7 separate regions of the Homo sapiens genome follow, and all the other regions are linked to region 1. Evidence: fine-mapped expression QTL. A gene starts in region 1. Each other region holds a variant in brackets. All regions are shown on one strand. Distances are between the middles of the regions.

Region 1 (4,064 bases):
AAACAAACAAACAAACAAACAAACAAAAGAAGTCCACTCTAGCAGACTTGCTTACAGATTGAGATCCACCATGGGTATGACCCAGAACATTTCAGAAGATGGTGGGACTGCTCAGGAAGGAAGGCCTGGGGACAAGGTCAGTATGAAGGCATAGGTGAGGCTGACAATGTTTTCTGATCTATTACGTGCCAGACACTGCACTAAGATCTCACAGACCAAACTTCATAAAGGCTGAGCGAGGTGGTTCATGCCTGTAATCCCAGCACTTTGGGAGGCCAAGGCAGGCAGATCACCTGAGGTCAGGAGTTCAAGACCAGCCTAACCAATATGGTGAAACCCTGTCTCTACTAAAAATACAAAAATTAGCTGGGCATGGAGGCGTGTGCCTGTAATCCCAGCTACTTGGGAGGCTGAGGCAGGAGAATTGCTTAAACCCGAGAGGCGGAGGTTGCAGTGAGCTGAGATTGCACCAATGTACTCCAGCCTGGGCGATAGAGCAAGATTCTATCTCCAACACACACACACACACACACACACACACACACACACACACACACACACACACCCACCCCAAAAAACTCAACAGCCTTTTAACAGATGAGCAAACGAAAGCTCAGAGCAGTTAAGTCATTTGCCCAAGGCCACATAGAGGCCAGGGAACTGGGATTTGAACGCCCAGCTGTCCAACACAGTCACCATGTCATCTACAACAGTATCGAGCATCAACATATGCCCATCCCTTTGTCATGGGCTAGGGGATGCCCAGGGAGGCATGGGAGACAGCCCAGACCAGAAGCACCGACGTGTTTGCAGTTGCCATCTACTGGTTCTTCAAGGCATAATGAAAAGGCTGCCTCTACCAAGCAGCCCTCCCAGAGTGACTCCCAGTCACAGCAAGGGAGTTGAAATGTGGCTGATTATGAGGGCAACCCTTTCCTGACCTCCTTTGGTTGTCATGTTCTTTTCTCAGAACTGCAGGTGACCTGGCCTTGGAGCATCAGCCCCCAGCGTCACTTCCTAGCTCCATCCTCTCTGGCCCCAGCTGTCCACTCTAGCTCAATTCACTCCCTCCTGGTTCTGGGGCCACCTTCCTAGACCTCAGGGTGCCTGAAGCCTGCCCTGCAGCATTGGGGGCTGGCAGGAAACAACAGACTGGGTGTGCCCAGCAGAAACCGCAGCCTTCCTCCCCCACCCCTCCCAGTCCCAGGCAGGCGGTGGTGCAGGAGGTCCCCCTAAGAAGGGGCCACGAGAGGAGACAGGGGATGTCTCCCAAGGGGGAGAACCCTCACCTGGAGGAAGGCTGCCTGGGTGGAGGGATGTGCTCTCTGGATGATTTCAGATCAGGACAAGACCCTTCTCAGGGCTGGTTGTCAGCCATCAGCCTTAAGTGTGAGTTTGTTTTGACAGTGGATTCAGAATCTGCAACAGGGAGGTTCTTGGGGGGCCCGGAATCTGCAGTTTAAGATGCAAAGGGCACCTGAGCCTTTGCCCCAGCTCCCCCATTCATTCTCTGTCTCCTGTCTCCACGCAGGAGGGCCTTGGCTACAAGGAGCTCTATCGTCCTTTCTTTGCTTTTCTTTTTCTTTTCTTTGTTTTGAGACTGAGAGGCTCACTTCAACCTCTACCTCCCGGGTTCAAGCCATTCTCCTGCCTCAGCCTCCCGAGTAGCTGAGATTACAGCTGCCCGCCACCACGCCTGGCTAATTTTTGTATTTTTAGTAGAGACGGGGTTTCACCATGTTGGCCGGGCTGGTCTCCAACTCTTGACCTCAAGTGATCCGCCCTCCTCAGCCTCCCAAAGTGCTAGGATTACAGGTGTGAGCCACCGCGCCCGGCCTCCACCCTCCTTTCTTACCTAGCAGCCCCTCAAGGATCCCCGTCCCCTGGGGTGACCTCTTATGACCACAGATCTCTGCACAATGAACGCAAGGGTCAAACAGCTTCCCCCACCCACTCAGGAAGCAAGTTGACTGCAAGGGGGAGAGAAACAGTGATGTATGTCTGCTCGCTGTCCCCCTAGACTTCCCAGACCCCACTGCCACTCTGTCCCGATGGGTCCATCTCTCTCCACTTCCCAGGATAAGTACTTACCAGATAGAGCTCAGTTCTTCAACCTGCAGGCACCTAGCCTGGCTAACAGCTCCTGCAGCTCCCATGACCTACGGCCAGCGTTTCGAGCTGGCCCAAGGGAACCGCTGGCTGGGTAGAGCCTGGGATAACCACAGAATGACCCAATAGCACCTCGACTTCCTCTTTCTCAACTGCCTGCCTGCATGCTTGCCACTCTGCTCCCAGCTGCAGGCCAATCTAGGGGCCTAAAAAGAGCCCAGAGGATGGGGGTTCTGGAGGCAGAGAGCCCTGCTCCCACCCCTCAGCCCTGCGCATGCAGGTGTCTTGAGGAGGAGGGGTGGGGAGCTGGAGGGAGGCCCAGCGTCCTCAACCCCCACCCCAGCAGCTTCCTGTGGAACCAACTGCTGAAGAGGAACAGGGTGTGGGGGCCTCACCCAGGCACATGGGTGTATAGACAGCAACATATAGGGACGTGCAGGTCATGTGTATCCGTAGAGACTCAGGCACCCAGACACACACCAGCATGGTGGGTACACACAGAGAGACAGAAACACACGTGGCTACATTGTTACATGGGTACCTGGAAGCTGGCGGAACAACATGGTGTGCTGGTAACGTTTAACAACCACCTCTCCGATTTGTAGCCATTGCCAATTCTCCTGGTGTAAATACCCCCAGCATGGCCGATTTCACCTACCAGTGTGATGTCACCGAGTGTGGAGTTGATAGGAAATGCTCAGATTTGGCTTTTTTTAGAAAACAACAACAACAACAACAAAAAACTGTTTATTTTATTTTTAGAGATAGGGTCTCATTCTGTCATCCAGTCTGGAGTGCAGTGGAAAAATCATAGCTCACTGCAGCCTCAATCTCTTGGGCTCAAGTGATCCTTCTGCTTCAGCCTCCTGAGTAGTTGGGATTACAGGCACATGCCACCATGCCTGGCTAAGTTTTTTGTTTACAGATAATTTATGTATAATTTATATATACTTTATATATAATTATATATGGATTATATATAGACTTATATATAATTTATATATAATTTTTTATATATAATTTTTCTTTTGAGACAGGCTCTCACTCTGTCATCCAGGCTGGAGTGCAGTGGGGGTGATTTTGGTTCATTGCAACCTCCATCCCCTGGGCTCAAGTGATCCTCCCACCTCCGCCTCCTGAGTAGCTGGGACCACAGGCACACATCACCACGCCTGGCTATTTTTTTTTGGTTTGTATTTTTAGTACAGACAGGGTCTCACCATATTGCCCAGGCTGGTCTCGAACTCCTGGGCTCAAGCAATCCTCCCACCTTGGCCTCCCAAAGTGCTGGGATTAGAGGCACGAGACATGGCGCCCAGCCTAAGTTAATTTTTTTTTTTTGTAGAGACAGGGATTTTATTATGTTTCCCAGGCTGGTCTCAAACTCCTGGGCTCAAGCAGTCCACCCGCCTTGGCCTCCCAAAGTGCTGGGATTACAGGCATGAGCCATGATGCTCCACTAAACTTGGCTCTTGGGCTGGCTTCAGCCTGTCACTGGAGTGAGTACTCTACAAAAAATTTAAAACTTCGCCACATTTGGTGGTGCCTGCCTGCAGTCCCAGCCGCTCCGGAGGCTGAGGCGGGGAGGCTCACTTGAGCCCAGGTGTTCAAAGCTGCAGTGACCTATAATTGTGCCACCGTACTCCAGCCTGGGTGACAGAGTGAAATCCCATTTTTTTTAAAGAAAGTTAAAATGGTAAATTTTACGTTATGCCTATTTTACCACATTTAAATTAATCACTTTAACATTATTTTTGCTGCATTTTCCATAATCTATGCTTTTTTTCCTTTTCCTTTTTTTTTTTTTTTTTTTTTTTTTTTTTTTTTTGAGATGGAGTCTTGCTCTGTTGCCCGGGCTGGAGTGCAGTGGTGCAATCTCAGCTCACTGCAACCTCTGCCTCCTGGGTTCAAGTGATTCTCCTGCCTCAGCCTCCCAGGTAGCTGGGATTATAGGT
Region 2 (4,064 bases), 190 kb before region 1:
ACCATGTTGGCCAGGATGGTCTCGAACTCCTGACCTCAAGTGATCCTCTCACCTCGGCCTCCCAAGGTGCTGGGATTACAGGCGTGAGCCACCGTGCCCAGCCATTTTCCTGCCTCTTGTCCAGCCAGCAGCACACAGTTCGAGATGGGGCAAATGCTGGGTAAACACGTTTCTTTCTTCTTTGGGTAGCCTGACCAGCTAGAAACCTTCCTGTTCCATCCCTTTATAAATAAGGAACTGAAACCGCCCAGAAATGGAGAGATTCCTTCTTTATCCACCACACCAACCTGTCTGGTACCCAGTGAAGCTCCACCTGCCAAAACACTGCAGGGACCCCTGGGTGAGGCACAGTCCCAGGAGATATAAACACATGCTGGAACCTTCTAAGACAGAATTTCCAGACTGTGGCCAGGTGCCGAGGATCACGCCTGTAATCCCAGCACTTTGGGAGGCTGAGGCGAGTGGATCACTTGAGGCCAGGAGTTTGAGACCAGCCTGGCCGACATGGTGAAACCCCATCTCTAGTGCAACTACAAAAATTAGCCAGGCGTGGTGGCACGTGACTGTAGTCCCAGCTTCGAGGGAGGCTGAGGTGGGAGAATCACTTGAATCCGGGAGGCAGAGGTTGCAGTGAGCCAAGATCGCACCGCTGCGCTCCAGCCTGGGCGACAGAGCAAGACTCCGTCTCCGAAAAAAAAAAAAAGTTTCAAGGAGAAGCACAGGAGAGCACAGGGTCCCTAACAAAAGTCCTGCCAACGCAGAGAAGCTCTGAGGGGCTGCAGACCAGCGTGGTACACTGACAGGCCAGGGCTGGGTTGTGGCCAGCAGTCTCCCAGATAAGCAGGGCCCAGGGGCCCCCAAAGAAGCCACAGGGTAACCTTACTTCCTCAGCTATTCTAAGAACAGCTGGCAAAAGCCTTGACTTCCTCTCCAGAAAAGAGCCCATCCCTGCCATGGGTGGTTCAAGGGGACAGCAGAGTCACTGGGTCAAGTGACACAGCAACACTCCAGCCGGCTAACAGTGGGACCACAGCTCCCACCCCACCCCAACCCTGCCCCAGGCTTCTCTCCCCCAAGCCTGGGGCAGAGCTGGGGTCCCAGTGCCTATGACAGCTCACTGTCACCTCAAGCCCCCGCTCCCTATAAGCTGCTGCTAAACACCCTCCCTGACCACTTGTCACTCTTGCAAACCCCACACTGTGGATAATGGACTGTATGGTTCCGGCCTGCTGCTCTGTACATTTGAGCATCCCTGATCTCTACCCATCAGGTGTCAGGAACAGCACCCTGTGAAATCCTAACAATCAAAAATGTCTCAGTAGGCTGGGCACAGTGGTTCATGCCTGTAATCCCAGCTCTTTGGGAGGCCGAGGCAGGCGGATCACCTGAGGTCAGGAGTTTGAGACAAGGCTGGCCAACATGGCAAAACCCCATCTCTACTAAAAATATAAAAAGTAGCCAGGCGTGGTGGCACAACCCTGTAATCCCAGCTACTCGGGAGGCTGAGGCAGGAGAATTGCTTGAACCCAGGAGGCGGAGGTTGCAGTGAGCTGAGATTGTGCCACTGCACTCCAGCCTGGGTGACAACAGCAAGACTCTGTCTCAAAACAAAAAAAAAAAGGCCGGGCGCAGTGGCTCACGCCTGTAATCCCAGCACTTTGGAAGGCCTAGGCGGGCGGATCACGAGGTCAGGAGATCGAGACCACCCTGGCTAACACAGTGAAACCCCCTCTCTAGTAAAAATACAAAAAATTAGCCGGGCATGGTGGCAGGCGCCTGTAGTCCCAGCTACTCGGGAGGCTGAGGCAGGAGAATGGCGTGAACCCGGGAGGCGGAGCTTGCAGTGAGCCACCGTCACGCCACTGCAGCACTCCAGCCTGGGTGACAGAGCGAGACTCCGTCTCAAAAAAAAAAAAAAAGAAAAAAAAGAAGTCTTACTGGGGTTCTGCGAACTAGGCATCTCTTCTTTATTACCTCATTCCACTGATGAGGAAGCAGAGAACTTTCTAGATCATCTGCCACACTCTGGGGACAGAGTGTGGGTTTCAACTTTCCTCTTCTTCTTCCTCCTCCTCCTCCTACCCTGAGGCTTCCTGACTTTCAGCTGGTAGTCGGGTCACTAACCCTTGATGGGCCTCAGTTTCCCCATATGGACAGTGGACAGAATGGTAGGATACATTTTCCTACACATCCTGGGTGC[C/T]GCCACAAGGCCCTGAAACCCCGACCCAGGGCTGGTTCATGGCCTTCCGAGGCCAGATGGCGATTTGTAGCCATTTATTGAGCCCCTATCCTGGCAGCGGTCAGCATGAGAAGCAGACATGTTAGTGAATACTGCAGGATCAGAAGTTCAGAAAACAGAATTACAGGAAGAGCCAGGGCAGGCAGGAGAGATCTAGGAGTTGGAGTCCTAGGGCAAAAGGTTCAGGGGTCACAGGTGAAGGGTTGACAGGTCCAGAGGACATAGGGTGGGGTTAGGGGGTGGGGGTCACAGGACCCAAGGGTTAGAGGTTGGAAATGATAGGATGAGAGAGGTCTGCTTCTATGGGAGAAGGTGCTGGTCTTACAGTCAAAGGGCAGGGATCAGAGGTCACAGAAGTCATAGGGAATGATCTCAGGTGGCATGGTTACAGGTCAGGGGTCAGCCTCACCTGGTCTCCCTGGCGGGCAATGATGGTGCCAGCTTTGGCGTGGTGCAGCAAGACTCTGCTGTTCAGGAGGGAGGGGTCCTGGGGAGGTAGGGGGGTTGAGATGGGCGCAGCCAGGCCTCCCTTGCGCCCTGTGCCCAGCTCCCCTCGGCTGCCCACCTCAATCCGCATCAGCTTGGCCAGCTCCTGCTTTGCTGCCTCGAAGATGCTGCTGGTCTGGCGGCCCTGGTAGGGCCCGAAAGGGCAGCCACCAGTGGCCGACTCATCCTCACAGTAGCTGTATTCACAGGCGCCTGCCGGCTGCTCACGAGGCTCCTGAGTGGGGGTCTGAGTGGGGCAGGCTTGTGACCTCCTGATGCTCCCTCCCAGCCACCTTCCCCTGCGGGCTCCACCACCGGGCAGGGTCCCAAGCCTTACCCGAGCGGGGGCTGCCAGGGACCCCCCGGAGGCCTCTTCCTGCAGGGACACGGAGATCCGGCCACGCTCATAGGCCATGTCGAAGTCGGAGCGGGGGCCACCCTGCAAGCCTGCAGGCAGGCAGGGGGGCAACAAAAACCATAAAGATGAGAGTAAGATTTTTAAAAAATGAGCCAGGTGTAGTGGTGCAGGCCTGTAGTTCCAGCTATTTGGGAGGCTGGGGCTGGAGGATCACTTGAGCATAGGAGTTCGAGGCTGCAGTGAGCTATGACAGCACCACTGCACTCTAGCCTGGGAGACAGGTCTCAAAAGAAAAGAAAAAGATGAGAGTAACCACAGTTGCAGTCTGAGACCAATGGATACCAATGTGCCATGGGCCACTGCTGTAGCAGACATGACTAATCAACGCCTGCACTCTCCCTCTGAATCCCTCTTAACAGGTGGGAGAAGCACTATCTCAATGAATATCTACAAAACAGTGCCTGGGGAAGTACTGGCAGTGTTCCCATTTCGCAGATTAAAACAATCAAGACAGGCAGGCGGTGGACCTGGATTCAAACCTGGAAGCTCCATGGCCCTCCCCGCAGACCCAGTGCTCCAAACCTGAGATGTCCCCTGGCATGGAGACGCAGCGGCTCAGCAGAGGGGCCGAGGGGGTTTCCAGGGATGTGGGCTTCACAGGGTCCCCTGGGGGAGACACATGTTCAGGCTCCTGCCCCTCAGAGCCACTAGGAGGATTAGCAGGTTGGGAGATAAGGAGATGCTGGCGACTGATTAACTAGTTAAAGCAATTCCAATGGGCCCTTGGGGACGAGGCCACAGCTTCCTCGGTACCAGATAGGAGTCAGACCTGGGTACCCCGCTATGGAGTCCCTGTGGGGCTGGACAAGGTCAGGTTGACTCTATGCAGAACTGAAAAAGGGGCTGGCGGCTGAGACGGGGCTTCCTGGGAGATTGGGCTCGGCTGGCCTCGGGTCCCTGGGTACCTGTAGGTCCAGGCAG
Region 3 (4,064 bases), 120 kb before region 1:
CCTGCCACTGGTCTCCAGCCTGGGCGACAGAGCAAGACTCTGTCTCAAAAAAACAAACAAACCAAAAAAACAGAAACAAAAACAAAAACAAAACCCCCAACAACTCCTGGGGACTGGACCTGAAGGGGTCTTCAGAGCGTTAAGCAGGACACGGAGGGCAGGTGAGCGAGCTGAGGGGCAGGAGCCATGGGGAGCCCCCAACAGAACCTGCTACTCCTGCAGCAACGTTTGGGCAGAAGAAAATCCTCAAATAAAACCTCCAAGAACGTGCACGCCAGTCACCGCTCATCTCGGACACGTTTATTGCTAGAATCAGGTCTTAAGTTCTAAAGCGGGTCAGAAATATCCCGCAGTGAGGAAATGTTGTAATCATTGTAAAAATAATTAGCAGGTGACTAAGATCATGACCACAACTGACAAAGACGTGTGCAGATCCCACGAAAATAGGAACATTTGCTCGACTGTCAACTTTACAAATAAAATCGGGCTCCAACCCAGGAGTGGCCGAGGGGCACTGGCGAGGGAAGGGCTGTCGGCGCTGCCGCCCGATGCCTAGCACGACTGAGACCCCTCTGCCACATGGCGGGGACGCGGGGTTCCCACCGCGTGGCCGAGCAGAAATTCCTTGAACTTCTCCCCCATCCAAGGAATTGTGGCATCTCGGAGGGCTGGACCGGCACACGCCGGCTCAGGAGGGTGCCAGGGTCTGGGAATGTTCTCTTCACAACAGAACAGGAATGTACAGTCAGCTTCTGTAAAGTGCTCCGATACTCAGTACAAAAATACAAAACACTGATGATAAACATGGCACACATGGGATCTGACGGGGGGCGGACAGCGTCGCTGATGGCCAGGGACCGGGCTGGGCAGAGTTGAGGTCGTCGGAGGGGCCAGGAGCCTGGGGACACCTGGCCACTGTGTTCTCAGGACCTTGTCACCAATGGGCTGTATGGCTGTGGGGCTCTGGTTCCCGGTTGGCACCAGCTCCTGCCCCGCCCCCTCCTGAGCCCACAGCACCCAGTGGGCGCCTCTGCCCAGGGGAGCACTTCCTGATGGAGTTTCCCCTCCCTTGTGCCCATCTGTCCCCGAGTGGCGGGAATGTCCCTGTTCACTGTATTCAGCGTCACAGGAGTGCCTCTGCCAGCACAGTGGGAGAAGGGCTGAATCCCCCCGGGATCTGCAGTTCCCAGGACCCTGGGTTCGGGAGAAGGACTTGGCCCTGGCAGGGGCTCACATGTACCCCACTGGGAACAAGGACGATCAGCCAGGACCCAGTCCTACCACCAATGCTTGGGGTGCAGAACAAGGCTTGACATGGGCCCTTTCTCCACCGGAGCTGGATCGTGGATGGATCTCACCACCCTGGGATGTCCCAGCACCTTTGATGCTGCCCAACACCTCCTTCCTCCACCCCTCCAGGGAACGGACCGTAAGCTGCAACAGCTCACTACAAGCGAGGGGCCCGCACAGCGGCCACTTGTCCACTTGCTGCAACGTCTCTAGGTGCATCCTCTGCATGCCCTGGGACATGGCGCTCTCGACAGTCTGTGATGTGCCAGCCCCCACCTGGAAGGTGGGACGCCAGCCCTGGGAGCTCATTTCCCGGGGGCTGAGGACCCTGTGCCCAGGGTGTGTACCCGCCCTGGCTGAAGCTAGAGGCCCGCTCCCCCAGACAGGCTGAGCGTGTGAACAGCAACGGTTGCCCTTGGGAAGCAGAGTTTGGGAAACAGCTGGTTTCAAAACCAATGCCAAGTAAAAAGGGGCAAAGGTCAGCCCCTTTCACGATGGGCTTCCAAACCCACAGAACCTGACTGGAGGGCCACTGATGTTCCCTCAGTGGGCCCTGCCCCGTGGCCCTCTCTGCCCATGCCCCCGTGCCTGGCTCATTCCCTGACCCTGAGGTTCATGGTGAACCTGCGTGGGGCTCTGTTTGGGAAGTGGATTCTGCCTGATTCTGGGGACAGATGCTGCCGACGCCACCTGGCCCCTCCTGGTGCCCTAACCCTTGGCTCCACTGTCGCGCGGCGGCTGTGGAGCGTGGCCCCGGCCGGCAGCTCCTTCTCAAAGCAAGGTCTGTCCTGTCCTCAGCTCCGTGCAGAGCCGGCACCGTTCCTCACTGCCTCGGAAAAACAGCTCGGAGTTGATCTCCCCGCCACCCGGATGGGGTGCTATGATTTCAGACAGCTCCCTGGTTTAGTTCTGGCTCAACTTTCCATTAAAAACTTTCCTTTTTGAAAAAAAAAAAAAGAGATTCAGAAAGTGACCCCGGCACCACCGCTAACCCTACAGAAACAGCTGCAAGGCCCAGAGCACCGACAGGCTGGCCCCTGCCAGGCGGTCATCAGTGGTTTGCTAGGGAAGAGGAGGGGACAGCTGGGTGGGCATGGTGACCCCATGGGGGTCCCCAGAGAGCAGGAAGGGTGGGCAGGGCAGGGAGGGG[C/G]CTTGCACCTTGAGTCACGGCCCTTTTAGAAGAAGATGACGTCTTCTTTGCTGGCGTCCTCCTTGGCGCTGAGTGGTGTGGCCGGCAGTGGCGAGGGAGCTGGGGGCCCGGGCAGGAGGGCTGTGCCCCCGGCCTTGAGAGAGAAGCCCTCGGAGGGGCTGTCAGCTGGCGGTGGGCTCGGGGCGGGGAAGCCAGGGTCTGGAACAGAGAGAGGGTTCAGACTGAGCAGTCGCCGGGTGGTGCCGCAGCCCCGCTGCCCTGGGACTGGGCTCATGTCAGGGGGTGGGGGCTCACCTGGTGGGGGCGCAGGACTGTGTCTGCCGGGCAGGATAGGGCTCAGCGAGCGGCGGTTCCGTGAGGTGCTCTCATCTTTCCCCATGAGCTTGTTGAGCAGCAGCTGCTGCTTCAGGTCGAAGGACGCTGGAAGAGAGAAGGTATTTGGGCCAGCTCCAGGCTGGCCAGCTGTCCCCACCCGCCAGGGCAGCCTCCGAGAGCAGAGGGGCCTGGCCACCCCCACCTGACACTTCCCACGGGCGGCCTGGATCCCGTGACCTGAGCTGCTCAGATGCTAAGCCCCAGATTCAGGGAGAACGGCCCCAACCTCCCTGCGGAAGGACCTGCAGAGTCACCCGGCATCTGGAGAGGAGGCTGAGCCTCCTGTGGAAATAGCACAGGCCCTAGTGACCACGGGACACACCCTTAATCTTCAGAGAACATCCCAGAACATCCCTGGTTGTCCCCCAGGGAGGTGTCCCCCAGAGGAGCTCCTGGACATCCTCCGTGGAAACACTGGGGCTGCTCTGGGCTCCGTGTCCCACTCTGTGGAACGGCTCTGTGGAACTGGGACAATGAGCAGAGGCGCCTGCACCTGTCCCTGTCCCGGCTGTGCTGATCCCACGTGGCCAGGGATCTCTGCCTTCTTGCCCGTGTCCCTTTCTAAGGCTCCTGGTCCCCATCCCACTGTTTTGAGGGTTGAGGTGGAGAAGATGCAGGGTGGATCATCTCAGTTTTGGGCCTGGAGACCAAACACGGCCCTGTGTGGGGTGGCCTCAGCCACGATGCCAGCTGTGCCTTCTGGTTTTCCTCTCCAGAGGATGGCACAGGTGTCCCGAATTTCCTGGCTCCCAGCGAGCCGCTAGAGCCTGACCAGTTGCACCTTCCAGGCCCAGGCGAAGGGGTGGGGCCGGCTCACCTGAGCTCTCCCAGCGCTGAGAGCCCCTGCTCTTGCCGCCCTTGTCCTTGCCACCCTTGGTGGAGGCCGCCAGCTTGGTGGGGATCTGCTGCTGCACGGCCGCCTGCCTCTGGAACTGGTTGGTGGCGCTGAGCAGCTGGATGGGCACATCGCTCTTGGCCAGCCGGTTCTCGGTGGGGGCGCTGTCCCGGCGAGCCACCTCGGGGCGCTCTGCGTACTCTGGCCCCACGCCGGATGGCAGCATGCTCACACGAGGGCCCTCCAGCCCTTCCCCGTTGAAGCTGGGAGGGTGGCTTGGGGGCTGGGCCTGAGGGGACAACAGCAGATACATCCAATGTGAGGTTCCTGCTGTGCGGCCTCTGGAGAGCCCCCGAGGGTCGTGCACAGGAGACCCTCGACCTCTCCTGTTCTGGACAGAGCCAGGTGCAGCCT
Region 4 (4,064 bases), 39 kb after region 1:
TTGCACTCCAGCCTGGGCGACAGAATGAGACACAGTCTCAAAAAAAATAAAAGAAAAAAAAAGAAATTAAACATAGAATTACCATATGACCTAGAAATTCTGCTTCTGGGTATACACGCACGAGATTTGAAAGCAGGGACTCAAAGAGACACTTGTACACCCATGTCCACAGCAGTGTGATTCATAACAGCCAAAGACAGAAGGCACCCAAGTGCCCAGCAAGAGACGAATGGATAAACAATGTGGTCCCTCCGTAGGGTGGGATAGGATTCAGCCTTAAAAAGGAAGGACATTCGGCCAGGCGCGGTGGCTCATGCCTGTAATCCCAGCACTTGGAAGGCCGAGGCAGGTGGATCACTTGAGGTCAGGAGTTCGAGACCAGCCTGGCCAATGTGGTGAAACCCTGTCTCTACTCAAAATACAAAAATTAGCTGGGCATGGTGGCGGGCACTTGTAATCCCAGCTACTTGGGAGGCTGAGGCAGAAGAATCACTTGAATTCGGGAGGCGGAGGTTGCAGTGAGCCGAGACCACGTCACTGTACTCCAGCCTGGGCAACAAAAGCAAAACTCCATCTCAAAAATAAAATAAATAAATAAATAGGAAGGAAACTCTGGCCAGTTGCGGTGGCTCACACCTGTAATGCCAGCACTCGGGGAGTCCGAGGCGGGCAGATCACTTGAAGTCAGGAGTTCGAGACCAGCCTGGCCAACATGATGAAACCCCGTCTCTACTAAAAATACAAAACTTAGCCAGGCGTGGTGGCACATGCCTGTAATCCAAGCTAGTTGGGAGGCTGAGGCAGGAGAATCACTTGAACTCGAGAGGCGGAGGTTGCAGTGAACCGAGATCATACCCCTGCACTCCAGCCTGGGCAATAAGAGTGAAACTCCATCTCAAAAAAAAAAAAAAAAATCTGGCATAGGGAAATTCACAGAGACAGAAAGTAAATTACTAGTTGTCACGGAGGGGGTGGAATGGGGAACAGCTACTTAATATATGTGAGGTTTCCCTTTGAAGGTGATGAAAATGTTCAGGAACTTGATAGAGGTGGTGGTTGTACAACATTGTAAATGTACAAAATACCACTAAGTTATTCACTTTAAGATCCACGATCTTATTTTATGGGAATTTCACATCAATTAAAAAATACACACATACAGCTGGGTGCGGTGCCTCATGGCTTTGAGAGGCCAAGGTGGATGGATCATCTGAGGTCAGGAGTTCGAGACTAGCCTGACCAACATGGTGAAATCCCGTCTCCCAAAAATAAAAGTAGCCAGGTGTTGTGGTGTGCGCCTGTAATCCCAGCTACTCAGGAGGCTGAGTCAGGAGAATCGCTTGAACCCAGGAGGCGGAGGTTGCAGTGAGCCGAGGTCACGCCATTGCACTCCAGCCTGGGTGACTAAAGTGAAAGTCTGTCTCAAACAAAAAAAGAAAATACACACACACACACACACACACATACACACAGACACGCACACATTTCTTGCTTCTTCTCACTTCTGGTGGCTATTGGCATTCTTTTGTTTGTGGCTAAATCACTCCAGTCTCTGCAACTATCTTTACATGACCTTATTCTCTTCTGTCAAAACTCTCTCTGACTCCTTATTTTATTTATTTATTAATTTTTTTAGAGACAGGGTCTCACTCTGTCACCCAGGCTGGAGTGCAGTGGTATGATCATTGCTCACTGCAGCCTCGACCTCCTGGGCTCAAGTCATCCTCTTACCTCAGCCTTCCAAAATGCTGGGACTATAGGGATATACCATCATGACTGGCCAATTTGAAATCTTTAAGAGATGGGGTCTTGCTATGTTGCCCAAGTGGGTCTTGAACTCCTGGCCTCTAGAGATACTCTCACCTTGGCTTTCCAAAGTGGTGGATTACAGGTGTGAGTCACTGCACCTGGATACGTGCATTATTATTATTATTATTATTATCATTATTATTATTGAGACAGAGTCTCGCTCTGTCACCCAGGCTGGAGTGCAATGGCGTGAGCTCAGCTCACTGCAACCTCTGCCTCCCAGGTTCAAGTGATTCTCCTGCCTCAGCCTCTGGACTAGCTGGGATTACAGGCGTGCACCACCATGCCTGGCTAACTGCTGTATTTTTAGTAGAGACGGGGTTTCACCACATTGGCCAGGCTGGTCTTGAACACCTGACCTCAGGTGATCCACCTGCCTCAGCCTCTCAAAGTGTCGGGATTATAGGCGTGAGCCACTGAGCCTGGCTGGTGCATTATTTATTTATTTTCCTAGGAAGAAGGTATATTTATTTATTTCTTAAATTTTTATTTTTATTTCAGTAGTTTTGAGGGTGCAGGTGGTTTTTGGTTACATGGATAAGCTTTTTAGTGGCAATTTCTGAGCTTTTGGTGCACCTGTCACCCAAGCAGTGTACACTGTACCTAATATGTAGTCTTCTATCCTTCTCCCCCCAATTTTCCCTGCCCAAGTCCCCAAAGTCCATTATATCACTTTTTTTTTTTTTTTTTTT[TTTA/A]AAGACAGAGTTTTGCTCTTCTTGCCCAGGCTGGAGTGCAGTGGTGCGGTCTCGGCTCACTGCAACCTCCGCCCTCTGGTTTCAAGCGATTCTCCTGCTTCAGCCTCTCTGGTGGCTGGGATTACAGGTGTGCAGCACCACGCCTGGCTAATTTTTGTATTTTTAGTAGAGACGGGGTTTCACCATGTTGGCCAGGCTGGTCTCGAACTCATGATCTCGTGATCCGCCCACCTCGGCCTCCCAAAGTGTTGGGATTATAGGCATGAGCCACCGCGCCTGGCCATTATATCACTCTTATGCCTTTGCATCCTCCTAACTTAGCTCCCACTTATCAATGAGAACATAGGATATTCGCCTTTCCATTCCTGAGTTACTTCACTTAGAATAATGCTGGCCAGGTGCATCCTTAATAGCTGGAAACACCTTCATATTGCTTGCGGCTGTCCCTTTAAAAGCTGGTTGCATTCCTGTCTGGAGAGGTTCATTGGCTGGATGAAATTTGTTATGCTCACTTTTCACCACAAATCCGTGACGCTTAATTCAGTCCTGTGAAATGTCTGGTGCAGAGTTACAATCTCTTACCTCGTCGTGGTCTCCTTTGCTCGGGATGTTTACTGCCTCTTCGATTTTTTTTTTTTTTTTGAGATGGAGTCTCGCTCTGTCACCCAGGCTGGAGTGCAGTGGCACGATCTCGGTTCACTGCAGCCTCTGCCTCCCGGGTTCAAGCGATTCTCCTGCCTCAGCCTCCCAAGGCACATGCCACCACGCCTGGCTACTTTTTTTGTATTTTCAGTAGAGACGGGGTTTCACTGTGTTAGCCAGGATGGTCTTGATCTCCTGACCTCCTGATCCGCCTGCCTTGGCCTCCCAAAGTGCTGGGATTACAGGCCTGAGCCAGCACATCCGGCCTGCCTCTTGGATTCTTGTTGAGCTACTTTGTAACTAGTGATGGATGGTTTCAACTCTGAAGGTTTTTACATCAGATAGGATGGGGGCAGCTTTTACGGAATTATAACCCCTTGAATGAGAGCTACTCAATAGGAAATTCCCAACCACCAACTCCACAACAGAATAGCAGGTAGCACCAACGTGTTCTGCTGTAGAGACTGGTCTCATTGATTGTGTCCTTAAACTTCAGAGTGTGGGGAAGAGCAAACACCATCAAAAGATCGTCAGTCTAGGAGGCCGGGGAAAGTGGCTCACACCTGTAACCCCAGCACTTTAGGAGGCTGAGGTGGATGGATTTATTGAGCCCAGGAGTTCAAGACCAGCCTGGGCAACATAACATGGCAAAACCTTGTCTCTACAAGAAATAAAATAATTAGCCGGGTGTGGTGACGAGCACCTGCAATCCCAGCTACTCGGAAGGCTGAGGTGGGAGGATTGCTTGAACCCAAGCGGTCAAGGCTGCTGTGAGCTATGATTGCACCACTGCACTCCAGGCTGGGCAACAGAACCAGACCCTGTCTCAAACAAACTAACAAAAAAATCGCCAGTTGAAACTTGTAAAATGCAACTTTTATTGCTTAAAAAACAACTTTATTAAAGTGTAATTGACAT
Region 5 (4,064 bases), 68 kb before region 1:
GGGTACAGAGGCCAAGTGTGGGTACATCAGGGTACAGAGGCCGAGTGTGGGTACATCTGGGGTACAGAGGCCGAGTGTGGGTACATCTGGGGTACAGAGGCCGAGTGCGGGTGCACCTGGGGTGAGGGGCTGCTGGGGGGCTGGAGAGCAGACACACCTGCAATGCAGAAATGAAGGGAGAGGCCCTTCCATTCCCTGGTGCTTACTGAACAGGCGCCAGGTGGACTAGCAGATGTCTGAAAGGAAAGACTCTCCAGGAAACAAGTATTTGTGGAAACTCAAAAGAGCCGTCAATGAGTGCCACCTTCACCTCCTCTCCTCCCTCTCTCCCCCTTGAATCCACACCGACAACTCCATCAGCCACATGGGCCGGGGCAGAGAGGGCAGGTGTGCTAGGAACAGACATCGCAGCCACGCTGCCCGGGCTCAAACCCCCACCTCCGAGATCCAGAGCCAGGGACCTAACTGCACCCTGCCTCCATTTCCCCCATCTGTAGGATGGGGATAATCGTAGTGCCTGCTGGCTGGGCACAGTGGCTCACACCTGTAATCCCAGCACTTTGGGAGGCTGAGGTGGCAAGAAGGTGACAGAGTGGCCATCTGTCACTGACAGAGTGGGAGGAATGCTTGAGCCCAGGAGTTTGAGACCAGTCTGGGTAACATTGCAAAACCCCATTTCTACCAAAAGTAAAAAATTAGTCAAGCATGGTGCACGCCTGTGCTCCCAGTTACTTGGGGGGCTGAGGCAGGAGGATCGCTTGCGCCCAGGAGTTCTAGGCTGCAGTGAGCTGTGATTGTGCGACTGCACTCCAGCTGGGGTGACAGTGAGATCCCGCCTTAAAACAAAACAAAACAAAACAAAAAAACCCCACAAACACAAAAAACCAGTAATGCCCTCTCTGGGGGTTGGCTGTGATAGAGAACATTCTGGAATGCTGTCTGACACAAAGCAAATACTTTCCTTGACTATTTGTACTACCATTCACTTCCTCCGTAGCTGCTGGAATGATTCAACTAACAACCAAGTCAGGCATGTCCCTCCTCTGCTCAAAGCCCTGCCATGGCCCCCACCTTCCCCAGGAACCCGTCTTCACTGTGACCTGCAAGAATGGTCGGCAAACTATGGCCCCAGGGCCAAATCCAGCACCTCCTTTGGTAGAGCAAAAATATGCACCAGAGACCTTATGCTGCCCACAAAGCCCAAGGTATGTACCATCTGGTCTCTTACAGAGAGTCCAGGACCTCTGGCCCCACCCAGGCTATCTCCTCACCAGCTACCACCAGCCTTCACTCTCCCACTCTCCTGGGCCACCTGGCTCCACCCACCCCGGCCTCCTCCAAACATGTCACCATCCCACTGGGCCCCCGTGGCTGCTGCTCCTTCTGCCTGTCCCCATCTTCTTTTTCATTTTATTTTTATTGAGACCGAGTCTCGCTCTGTCATGCAGGCTGGAGTACAATGGTGCGATCTCAGCTCACTATAACTTCTGCCTCCTGGTTTCAGGTGATTGTCATGCCTCAGTCTCCCGAGTAGCTGGGATTACAGGCGTGCGCCACTCGTCTGGCTGATTTTTGTATTTTTAGTAGAGATGGGGTTTTGCCATGTTGGCCAGGCTGCTCTCCAACTCCTCACTTCAAGTGATCTGCCCGCCTTGGTCTCCCAAAGTGCTAGGATTACAGGTGTGAGCCACTGTGCTGGGCCAACTTTTATTTTTAAATGTATAATTTTCAAATAGAGACAGGGTCTTGCTATGCTGCCCAGGCTGGTCTTGAACTCCTGGCCTCAAGCAGTCCTCCTCCCTCTGCCTCCCAAAGTGCTAGAATTACAGGTGGTAAGCCATCTTGTCTGACCTGCCCACCTTCTCAGTGAAGCCCCAGAGGCCACCTTGTTTAAAATATCATCCAGGCCAGGTGTAGTGGTTCACACCTGTAATCCCAGCACTTTGGGTGGTGGCTGAGGCGGGTGGATCACTTGAGGTCAGGAGTTCGAGACCAGCCTGACCAACATAGTGAAACCCTGTCTCTACCACAAATACAAAAATTACGCAGGTGTGGTGGTGCGTGCCTGTAATCCCAGCTACTTGGGAGGCTGAGGCAGGAGAATCGCTTGAACCTGGGAGGCAAAGGCTGCAGTGAGCCGAGATGGTGCCACTGCACTCCAGAATGGGCAACAGTGTGAGACTCCATCTCAAAAAACAACAACAACAA[CAAA/A]AACAGCCGGGCATGGTGGCTCACGCCTGTAATCCCAACACTTTGGGAGGCTGAGGCGAGCGGATCATGAGGTCAGGAGATCGAGACCATCCTGGCTAACACAGTGAAACCCCGTTTCCACTTAAAAATACAAAAAATTAGCTGGGCGTGGTGGCGGGCACCTGTAGTCCCAGCTACTCGGGAGGCTGAGGCAGGAGAATGGTGTGAACCCGGGAGGCAGAGTTTGCAGTGAGCCAAGATCGTGCCACTGCACTCCAGGCTTGGCAGCAGAGCAAGACTCTGTCTCAAAAAAAAAAAAAAACCCAAATAAAATATCATCCACCCCAAAACACACACACACACACACACACACACACACACACACACACACACACACGAATTTTCTCCGTGAGGCACATCACAGCCTCCTTGCACTCAGGGGCACTTGCTGGCACTGCAGCACTACGTTTGAAGGTCATTTTATTTTCTAAAAAATTTATTATTATATTGTTATTTTAGAGATGAGGTCTCTGCTGCCCAGGCTGGACTGCAGTGGCGTGATCGTAGCTCACTGCAGCCTCGAACTCCTGGGCTCAAGGAATCAAGGGATCCTCCTGCCTCAGCCTCCCAAGTAGCTGAGACCACAGGTGTGTGACACCATGCCTGGCTAATTAAAAAAAATTTTTTTTTTAGAGATAGGGTCTTGCTATGTTGCCCAGGCTGGCTGGTCTCAAACTCCTGGGCTCAACTAATCCTCCTGCCTAGGCCTCCCAGTGTGCTGAGATTATAGGCATGAGCCTCCTCGCCCAGCTAGGGGTCATTTTCAACATTAACATCACCAACAAGAAGCACACAAATGCGAAAACCGTGGTACTCCATAGACCTTCAACAGGGCATGTGTTTACAGTGTGAGAGGCTGAACGAGAAGGTGGAGTGTCGCCTCGCTCAGCCTCAGCTGGGAACCTGTGTGGGAACTCCAAGTTTTCTCCACTCTGCACCAATATGAATGGATTCATGTTGCGGTTACAGAGAAATTTTAGCAAGCGGGTGAAAATTAAACAAAGAATTACCATCCGATCCAGCAATTCTACTCCTGGGTATATCTTCAAAAGGGTAAACACTGACTCTGCAAATCCCAAGGCTCAACTGTAGTTTTGTTTATTTAGAAGGGAAACTCCAGGAGCTGCGGGTCTCTGTGGTCATGGCTGGCACGAGGCCTGTCATGTGGTGGGTGGGTGCTTAACAAATACGCGCTTCAGGGAGGGAGGGAGAGGACGTCTGGGAGGGACCTGGTCTGGACCGGTCAGAGAAAGGAAAGGGCAGGGTGGAGGGAATGTCTTATTCCAGGAGGTTCTGCCATGGGCCTTGGGGGCCCTTGGAGAGTCACTTTGTCATTGAACCTGAAGCCACGGAAAGGTTTATGTGGAGGATTGGATGAGCTCTGCTTCTCGAAACGATGGCTGCAGCGTGGGGAGCAGGGCACACTGGAAGGGGTTGCTGGTGGACGCAGGGGGACCGGGACCTCGAGGGCAGGGTGGAGAGTGGCAGAGAGGGGCGGTGCAGGGGCCATGAAGTGGGGGGCAGAGTGGCGGGCTCGGCAGCAGGCAGCCGCTGGCACGGGGTGTTGCGCTCAGGAGGGCGCTCTAAGCAAGGGGTGGACATTTGGGCCTAAGGTGCTACCTGAAGCCCGGGAGAACCCAGGAGTGCCCAGGAGCAGGGTTAGGGAGGTGGTTTAATGGAGCTGCCTGGAGATTCAATGGGATAAGGGATGGAACTAAGGTCCTTGGGTCCAGCTTTGTTGAAAGCGGTCTTGGGAGCAGAATAGCTGAATGGCATGCGTGGTTTTTATTTTGGGGGAGGGGAGAACACAGTTG
Region 6 (4,064 bases), 29 kb before region 1:
ACTACAGGTATGTGCCACCACGCCCAGCTAATCAAAAAAAAAAAATTATACAGACAGAGTCTCACTCTGTTGCCCAGGCTGGTCTCAAACTCCTGGGCTCAAACAATCCTCCCACCTCAGCCTCCCAAATTGCTGGGATCATAGGCATGAGCCACCTCGCCCAGCAAATTTTTAAATGTTTTTTGTAGAGACAGGGTCTCACTATCTTTCCCAAGCTGGTCTCAAACTCGTGGCCTCCAAATGATCCTCTCACCTTGGCCTCCCAAAGTGTTGGGATTACAGTGGTATGAGCCACCACATCCAGCTACAGGAAGATTTTGTAACAGATGGCAGTGTCTTAGGCAGGAGGCACCTTCACCTGTTTGCTCCAAGGAACCCCTATGCCAGTGGCAGCCTGCTCCTCTCCAACTCTTGTCTTCTATCCTCCTCCCTCCTCTTCTGCCCCATTTTTCTTCCCTTGAACCCAGCCTTGTCTTTTTTCTATTTTTTTGAGACAGAGTTTCACTGTGTTGCCCAGGCTGGAGTACAATGGTGCAGTCTCAGCTCACTGCAACCTCCAACTCCTGGGTTCAATCAATTCTCCTGCCTCAGCCTCCTGAGTAGCTGGGATTACAGGTGCGTGCCACCACGCCTGGCTAATTTTTGTATTTTGAGTAGAGACGAGGTTTCGCCATGTTGGCCAGGCTGGTCTCGAACTCCTGACCTCAGGTGATCTGCCTGCCTCAGCCTCCCAAAGTGCTGGGATTACAGGCGTGAGCCACTGTACCCAGCCCTCACCCAGTCTTCTCTACCCCTGTCTCCTACACCTGTGCACACCCCTGCATGCTTCCTGCTTTTGTCTCCCACTTTGCTCCCCTCAAGCCTGTCCCGATTCCCACTTACCCATGGTACTGTCGAAGTTCTTGAAGCACCTGCTGGACAATCAGCCTGTGGGGGTGGAGGTGGGATTAGAACAGCCCATGGTAGCTCCAGGTTACAGACACTCTCCCCTAGATAAGCTGGGGTTGCCCAAGCAGGCCTCAGGTCCTGATGCAGACCCTACTCAAAGCCACAGTCAGCCGGGCACAGTGGCTCACGCCTGTAATCCCAGTACTTTGGGAGGCCAAGGTGGGCGGATCACCTGAGGTCAGGGGTTCGAGACCAGCCTGGCCAACATGGTGAAACCCCGTCTGTACTAGAAATACAAAAATTAGCCGGGCGTGGTGGCGGGCGCCTGTAGTCCCAGTTACTCTGGAGGCTGAGGCAGGAGAATCACTTGAACCCAGGGGGCAGAGGCTGCAGTGAGCTGAGATCACGCCACTGTACTCCAGCCTGGGTGACAGAGTGAGACCCTATCTCAAAAAAAAAAAAAAAAAAAAAAAAAAGCCACAATTGTCTCCCAAGGCTACATTGAGAACCTTTCTGAGGGGCCTGGGTCCCTCCCACCGGGAGAAGGATGGTGGCAGAAAGATGAGGTTATGGGGGGACTAGTGGGATGGTGTCTGGCCCTGGTCACTTATGGCCAGCAACACTGCACCCTGGCAGCCCTCCTCCCGCAGCCCTGACTTTGTGGCCTGTTCCCTGGGGGTCCCTCCCCCACCACGAGGCAGAAACTCACACGTGATCTGGTTCCACATGGTCTTTTTCCATGCACTCCAGCACTGGAGGTTCCAGGCCTGGAAGAAGCCCC[C/T]CATCCCAGGAAGCACAGTTGTCAGGAGCTCTGGGACAGGACCAGCCCAGCAGAGCCCTCCCGGATGCCACCCTGGGCCCCTGCAGAACTGGAGGCCATGCAGACAGGGCCTGTACTCTCAGGCAACAGAGACGAGAAGAGGACAGAGAGCCAGGGACAAACGCAGGTGTCCCCAGTGTCTCGTGAGTGCTTACAACCTACTAAGTGCTTTACGTGTGTGAGATCAGCAGACTCTCCAAGTGGCCTGAAGGAGATACGCTTATTGTCCCCCCTCCCCTTTTTTTCCTTAGACACAGTCTCGCTCTGTCACCCTGGCTGGAGTGCAATGGCTCAATCTCAGCTCACTGCAACCTCCGCCTCCTGGGTTCAAGCAAGTCTCCTGTCTCAGCCTCCCGAGTAGCTGGGATTACAGGCGCACACCACCATGCCCGACTAATTCTTGCGTTTTTATATTTTTAGTAGAGACGGGGTTTCACCATGTTGGCCAGGGTGGTCTCGAACTCTGGACCTCAGGTGATCCACCTGCCTCGGCCTCCCAAAGTGCTAGGATTACAGGCGTGAGCCACCGCACCAGGCCTTTTTTTTTTTTTTTTTGAGACGGTTTCACTCTGTCACCCAGAGCGGAGCGCAGTCCTGCCATCAGAACTCACTGCAGCCTTGACCTCCTGGGTTTAAGTGATCCTCCCATCTCAGCCTCCAAAGTAGCTGGGACTACAGGTGCACACCGTCATGCCTGGCTAATTGTTTTTTGTATTTTTAGTAGAGACAAGGTTTCGCCATGTTGCCCAGGCTGGCCTCAAACTCCTGGGCTCAAGTTATTCACCTGCCTCAGCCTCCCAAGGTGCTGGGATTCCAGGTGTGAGCTGCTGCACCTGTTCTAATAGAGGAAGCCACAGAGGCTCAGAGACTTGTTATGTGTTTAGACTCCAGGTTTGTCTGATGCCAGAGAGGTGCAAGATCTCAGGATAAAAATTCAGAGATAAAGAAAGAGATAAAGAAATAGTCAGAATGCTGGGCGCGGTGGTTCATGCCTGTAATCTCAGAACTTTGGGAGGTTGAGGCGGGCCGATCACTAGAGGCCAGGACTTTGAGACCAGCCTGGCCAACATGGCGAAACCCTGTGTCTACTAAAAATACAAAAATTAGCCGGGCATGGTAGCGGGTGCTTGTAGTCCCAGCTACTTGGGAGGCTGAGGCCGGAGAAGGGCATGAACCCGGGAGGCGGAGGTTGCAGTGAACTGAGATTGCACCACTGCACTGCAGCCTGGGCGACAGAGCAAGACTCTATCTCAAAAAAAAAAAAGAGTCATAGAGAGAAGAGAGAATCTTGGGGACAAGCTCATTGCAATGGGGCAATCTCACACTGGCTCAAGAGCTGCAGGGAGAGGAGGAGGGACAGATGCTGGAGGTCCCTTCCCCTCTCTGGCTTCCCCCAGCGTTCTGCTCAGTCCCTGCCCAGGGGACCCTAAGCCAGCTCCCTTCCCTTCCCTGGGGCCCATCTGGAGCCCCACCAAGGGGACCCTCCAGGATGAAGGATGAAACCCCAACAGGGTTTCACCATGTTGGCCAGGCTCCTCTTTCCCTGACTTGGTTTGAATGAAGGAAACTCCCAGGCTGGCTACCTTGAACAGGTGGAGTGGGCACTTCCAAACCCGGAGAGATTTCCGGAGAGCGGATCTCATAGAAGGACACAGGAACGGACCTTGACCTCCCTCTTTTCTTGGGGCTGTCACATTCCTGCAGGGGATTAAACATCTCACTAAGCTGGGAAGGCAGCCTGGACTGCAGGCAGGTTCCCTGGATTGAGGGGCCCAACCCACAGCCAGGGCCACCTCCACAGAAATGGGGTGACACACTCATCCAAGCCTCAGCCTCCAGCCACTCCCCCCAGCCATAAGACATGGGTTCAGCCACCCCCTCCCCAGCCACAGGGCTGTAGTCCTGGCGGAGGAGCCTCCAGCTCTGAGCTGGAGCCCCAGGTATCAGAGCCACAGCTTCCAACAATGGCCAGGAATTTCCCCCAGGGTCCTTTGTGATCACAGCCAAAGATGTCTCAGCCACCAGCCACAGCTCCAAGCATGCATTCCTCAGGTGTGAGCTGGGATCTCAGGTCAGACACAAATTCTCCTTAGCTGTAGCTGCATACCCCAACCACAGACACAGCTGCCTTCCGGCTGCAGGGCTACACTCCAGGCAAAGATCCTCCAAGCCTGGCTGAAACTGCAAGATAAGACATCCCCCATCCCCTTGTCTCCAGCCCTTGGGTTGGAGTCATGGCCATGCATGGCCTGCCCCAGATGCTTACCCAGGGAAATCCCTTCAGGCCTAGGCTGGAATCCTAGGACCCAGAGACAACTGAGGCACGGGCCACACCACAGATAAGCAGCCTCCACCC
Region 7 (4,064 bases), 110 kb before region 1:
ACCACCACGTCCAGCTAATTTTTATATTTTTAGTAGAGACAGGGTTTCACCATGTTGGCCAGGCTGGTCTCAAACCCTGGACTCAAGTGATCACCCGAGTCGGCCTCCTGAAGTGCTGGGATTACAGGCATGAGCCACCGCACCCAGCCAAAGGATCAGCTATTTTAAAAATATTTTGTCGACATGTGGTCTTGCTATGTTGCCCAGGCTGGTCTCAAACTCATGGCCTCAAGTGATCCTCCCAAGGCCAGGTATGGCGGCCTTGCCTATAATCCCAACACTTTGGGAGGCCCAGGCAGGAGGATTGCTTGAGCCCAGGAGTTGGAAACCAGCCTGGGCAACATAGTGAGACCCTGTATCTACCAAACATTTAAAAAATTAGTCAGGTGTGGGGGCGCGCACCTGTAGTTTCAGCTACTTGGGAGGCTGAGGTGGGAGGATTGCTTGAGCCTAGGAGTTAGAGGCTGTGTGAGCTGTGATCACGCCACTGCCCTCAAGCCTGGGTGACAGAGTGAGACCTTGTCTCCAAAAAAAAAAAAAAAAAGTGATCCTCCCACCTCGGTCTCCCAAAACACTGGGATTATGGGTGTGAGGCACTGCACCCGGCCCCTGCTTATTATTGAAAATACATCCCTTAGTGTGGATAACAGGAAGGACCCAGGACCGGGTCATGACTGGGAACACAGGCCCTGCTGGTCAGCTGACTTGTACAAATCTGGGTGTTTGGAAAACGAGGGGCTGGGGCCTCCTGGGAGGTAGAGTGGGCTTGGCTATGAGGCCTGCGTGCCAGCTCTGGCCACAGGGGCAAGTCCAAGCCTCAGAACTGATCAGAGGCAACTGGCCTTGGCCTCTGACCCCCTGACCTGGGCAGGGCCGAGTAGGCACCTGGCCTTCTGATTCAAAGGCAAAGGAATAGCCGGGGACATCTGGCATCTGGTAGGCACCACCACACCTGCCCCGGCTGAAAGCTGGTGGTCCCTGTAGGGGGTTCCTCGCCTGTTGATGAAGCCATGGTGAGTGCCCTGAGCCTGTCCCCTCCCCAGCCTTCCTCTTGGGGACCTCTTTGCTTTTCCCAGGAGGCTGCAGGAAGAAATCACCTGCCAGTGCATTAATCTGGGCTGAGATACTGTTATTCACCACAAAACAAACAATGCTTGTCGATGCTAATAAGACTAAAACTGGACAACCCCAGCAGAAGCTGCTCACACACATGAATCCTTATGACGACTCAGACTGTACCGAGCAAATGGATATCCACGTACCACCTGCGGCGATTCCTCAGAGCTCCCAGGAATGTCACTGTCACTGAGCTTCAAGTCCGGGCTGTTTGGGGGGCCTCGCCAGTCTCGGGGCCTGGGGTCAGTGCTGCTGACTTTCTTCTTGAAACTGCCATCTGAGAACCCCAAGCCAGGGGCATGAGGATGCTGCCATCCCGTGGGGAGGGGGAAGCTTCCCAGTCCACCCCCAGCCCCTGCCCAGGTAGGAAACCCAGGCTAGGCCCGAATGGTGGCGTCTGCAGCACAGACGCCTGCTGGAGAGGGGCAGGCTGGTCTGGGTGCTGCTGTCACAACACAACCAACGATGTCTGGAGGGTTTCAGAAGGTTCCAGAAAATCGGCTGGGTGCGGTGGCTCACACCTGCAATCTCAGCACTTTGGGAGGCTGAGGCGGGCGGATCACCTGAAGTCAGGAGTTCGAGACCAGCCTGGCCAACATGGTGAAACCCCATTTCTACTAAAAATACAAAAAGTAGCCGGGCATGGTGGCGTGTGCTTATAGTCCCAGCTACTTGGTAGGCTGAGGCGGGAGAATCACTTGAACCCAGGAGGCAGAGGTTGCAGAGAGCTGAGATTGCGCCACTGCACTCCAGCCTGGGTGACAGAGCAAGACTCTGTCTCAACAACAACAAAAAAGAAAGTTCTAGGAAACCCCATACAAGTTAATGTGCATCCTGAGGGGCGGCCCTGGAGGCAGGAGGGGAGACGGCCCCGCTCTTACTCTTGGTGGGGCTGTTTGTGCAGTCGTAGCCCGCGAAGGTCTCAGCCCTCCTGGGCGGGCCTGTGGAGCTGCCTCCGTCTTCCGCCTGGCCGTTGGCGCTGCCCAGCTGCCTGCAGATCAGGCTCTGGATGCCCTCGACTGTGGAAGGAAGGGGACAGGAGGCACGGGTCGCCCTGCGGAAGTGTGCTGGGGGAATACGGAGCGCTGGGGCAGCGAGACCCGGGTGGACGGAGGGACTCACTGGGGTGGTGATCGCCTGCCCCCTTCTGTGTGCCGTGGG[A/G]TTTCAGCCCCACTGTCCCTGCGCACACCCTTACTTCAGGTATGGCCACCAGGACAGGCCAATCTGCGTCTAAGTGAGAGGACAGGGCTGTGGGGCAGCCATGGGGAGGGCGGGTACAGGCTCCTGCAGCTCCTTCCACCAGGCCGCCCTGGGCCAGGGGCTGGCGAATGCTGGATGTGGCCCTGCCCAGGGCCAGCAGGAAACACTTGGTGTGTTATATGACAATGACCATACACTGATTGTGTGACAATGGCCATATGGGAGAGTGACTTTGTGGGGAAGGGCTGTCTACAGAAAGCCCTCTAGGACCAACAGGCTGTGGCCAGGCACAGAGGTGGGGACAAGAACATTCCAGGCCAAGGTGCGGGATATGAGAGTGTCCCCAGGGGGCCAAGAACAATGGCCACTGGAGCCGGGTGGAAGGATGTCAGTGGGCCTGGAGGGAGAAAGACTGACCCCCGTCTCTGCCGTCTTATTCTGCGGAAAGGCTCTGGAAGGCAGGGGCTGAGTCGGCTTCCCTCACTGTTGAAAGAGCAGATTGAGGCAGGGCGCGGTGGCTCACGCCTATAATCCCAGCACCTTGGGAGGCAGAGGAGGGTGGATCATCTGAGGTCAGGAGTTCGAGACCAGCCTGGCCAACATGGTGAAACCCCATCTCTACGAAAAATACAAAAATTAGCTGGGCGTGGTGGTGGGTGCCTGTAATCCCAGCTACCCAGGAGGCTGAGGCAGAATTACTTAAACCCAGGAGGTGGAGGTTGCAGTGAGCCGAGATCACGCCACTGCACTCCAGCCTGGGTGACAAAGCGAGACTCCATCTCAAAAAAAAAAAAAAAAAAGAAAAGAAAAAAAGAAAGAGCAGACTGGGCGCTGACTGCCTGCTCAAGCGGCCAGCCCAGGGGCCTGGCGGCTGTGTTAGAGCTGTGCGTGGGGACCCACTGAGGGAGTGTGCGTGTGTTTTTCTGGGGATATCACCAGGACCCACCTCCCAGGAAGAAGAGGAACCTCTGGTAGGTAGGGAACCAGTCTTAGTCAACTTCAGATCCTCCCCACGGCCCGGCTTAGAGCCTCTGCATGCAGGGAGCATCAGAGCGGTTGTTGAACGGGGAGAAAGTGCTTTATGTCTGCAAGGAGCGGCTTGGCCCAGATTATGTCTAAGGCCCTTCTGGCTCTCACAGGCACCGGGGGGCGGTCAGTGCTGCTCCTGGGCCCCCCCCACATAGAAGCCTGTCCTGGACAGGGTGCCGTGTCGGCCACAATGAGCCGTGAGCCTGGCCTGGGGTTCCCTGAGGAGCCCACCCCGGCAAGACTGCACCCTTGAGGTGTGGGCAGCCAACTTACTCTCGCTCATGGCCGACTTGAGAATTAGCTCCCCCTGCAGGGTCTCGGATGGGTCCCCTCCACGGAATAGGCCTCGGGGCTGGGGCAGGTCTTCGAGGCCGCCCATCTCGGCCATCTCCAGGTAGATCTGCTGTTTCTCTAGGAGGCTCTGTGCGATCAGCTGGTCTTTCATGCTCAACCGCTCTGCAGAGTGATGGTGGAGGTGGCAGTCAGCCGGGTCGGCCTTCCCTGGAATCATCTGAGCCCCGGGGACTGGCCTAAGGATGAGGAACCCCGCTGGCCCTGCCCTGAGGTAGGCTGCCCCCTTGTGTCCTGCATTCCTGGGAGGTAGGGGAGGGCATGGCCTTGTCCTCTGATTATTTTCCCCCTTGTTATAAAAATCAGGTTAGCTGTGGTGGCTCAGGCCTGCGATCCCAGTACTTAGGGAAGCCAAGGTAGGAGGACTC

What was found.
Region 2: its variant is fine-mapped to the expression of ARHGEF18 in whole blood (TOPMed, PIP above 0.99).
Region 3: its variant is fine-mapped to the expression of ARHGEF18 in whole blood (TOPMed, PIP above 0.99).
Region 4: its variant is fine-mapped to the expression of ARHGEF18 in whole blood (INTERVAL, PIP above 0.99).
Region 5: its variant is fine-mapped to the expression of ARHGEF18 in whole blood (INTERVAL, PIP above 0.99).
Region 6: its variant is fine-mapped to the expression of ARHGEF18 in whole blood (TOPMed, PIP above 0.99).
Region 7: its variant is fine-mapped to the expression of ARHGEF18 in whole blood (INTERVAL, PIP above 0.99).

Annotation. Positions count from the first base shown.
Region 1 is chr19:7,347,269-7,351,332 of GRCh38, reverse strand. It overlaps ARHGEF18 (Rho/Rac guanine nucleotide exchange factor 18), which reads right to left and starts at 2,396. Exons shown (of 29, transcript NM_001367823.1): 1 at 2,092-2,396.
Region 2 is chr19:7,541,669-7,545,732 of GRCh38, reverse strand. It overlaps PNPLA6 (patatin like domain 6, lysophospholipase), which reads right to left. Exons shown (of 32, transcript NM_001166114.2): 9 at 4,049-4,064; 10 at 3,666-3,749; 11 at 3,063-3,172; 12 at 2,805-2,972; 13 at 2,649-2,726. Among named protein-coding and RNA genes, the nearest start is that of PNPLA6, 8.0 kb to the right of the region's middle. The variant C/T (reference allele first, on the strand shown) is at 2,201.
Region 3 is chr19:7,468,700-7,472,763 of GRCh38, reverse strand. ARHGEF18 (Rho/Rac guanine nucleotide exchange factor 18) reads right to left here. Exons shown (of 29, transcript NM_001367823.1): 27 at 3,633-3,939; 28 at 2,735-2,860; 29 at 286-2,638. The coding sequence ends at 2,466. Among named protein-coding and RNA genes, the nearest start is that of PEX11G, 18 kb to the left of the region's middle. The variant C/G (reference allele first, on the strand shown) is at 2,441.
Region 4 is chr19:7,307,841-7,311,904 of GRCh38, reverse strand. No RefSeq gene overlaps it. Among named protein-coding and RNA genes, the nearest start is that of INSR, 15 kb to the right of the region's middle. The variant TTTA/A (reference allele first, on the strand shown) is at 2,502.
Region 5 is chr19:7,415,054-7,419,117 of GRCh38, reverse strand. The region is part of intron 10 of ARHGEF18 (Rho/Rac guanine nucleotide exchange factor 18); the gene reads right to left. Among named protein-coding and RNA genes, the nearest start is that of ARHGEF18-AS1, 22 kb to the right of the region's middle. The variant CAAA/A (reference allele first, on the strand shown) is at 2,209.
Region 6 is chr19:7,375,985-7,380,048 of GRCh38, reverse strand. ARHGEF18 (Rho/Rac guanine nucleotide exchange factor 18) reads right to left here. Exons shown (of 29, transcript NM_001367823.1): 5 at 3,292-3,406; 6 at 1,598-1,655; 7 at 883-927. Among named protein-coding and RNA genes, the nearest start is that of ARHGEF18-AS1, 17 kb to the left of the region's middle. The variant C/T (reference allele first, on the strand shown) is at 1,670.
Region 7 is chr19:7,461,889-7,465,952 of GRCh38, reverse strand. It overlaps ARHGEF18 (Rho/Rac guanine nucleotide exchange factor 18), which reads right to left. Exons shown (of 29, transcript NM_001367823.1): 21 at 3,619-3,801; 22 at 1,998-2,135; 23 at 1,263-1,393. Among named protein-coding and RNA genes, the nearest start is that of PEX11G, 25 kb to the left of the region's middle. The variant A/G (reference allele first, on the strand shown) is at 2,278.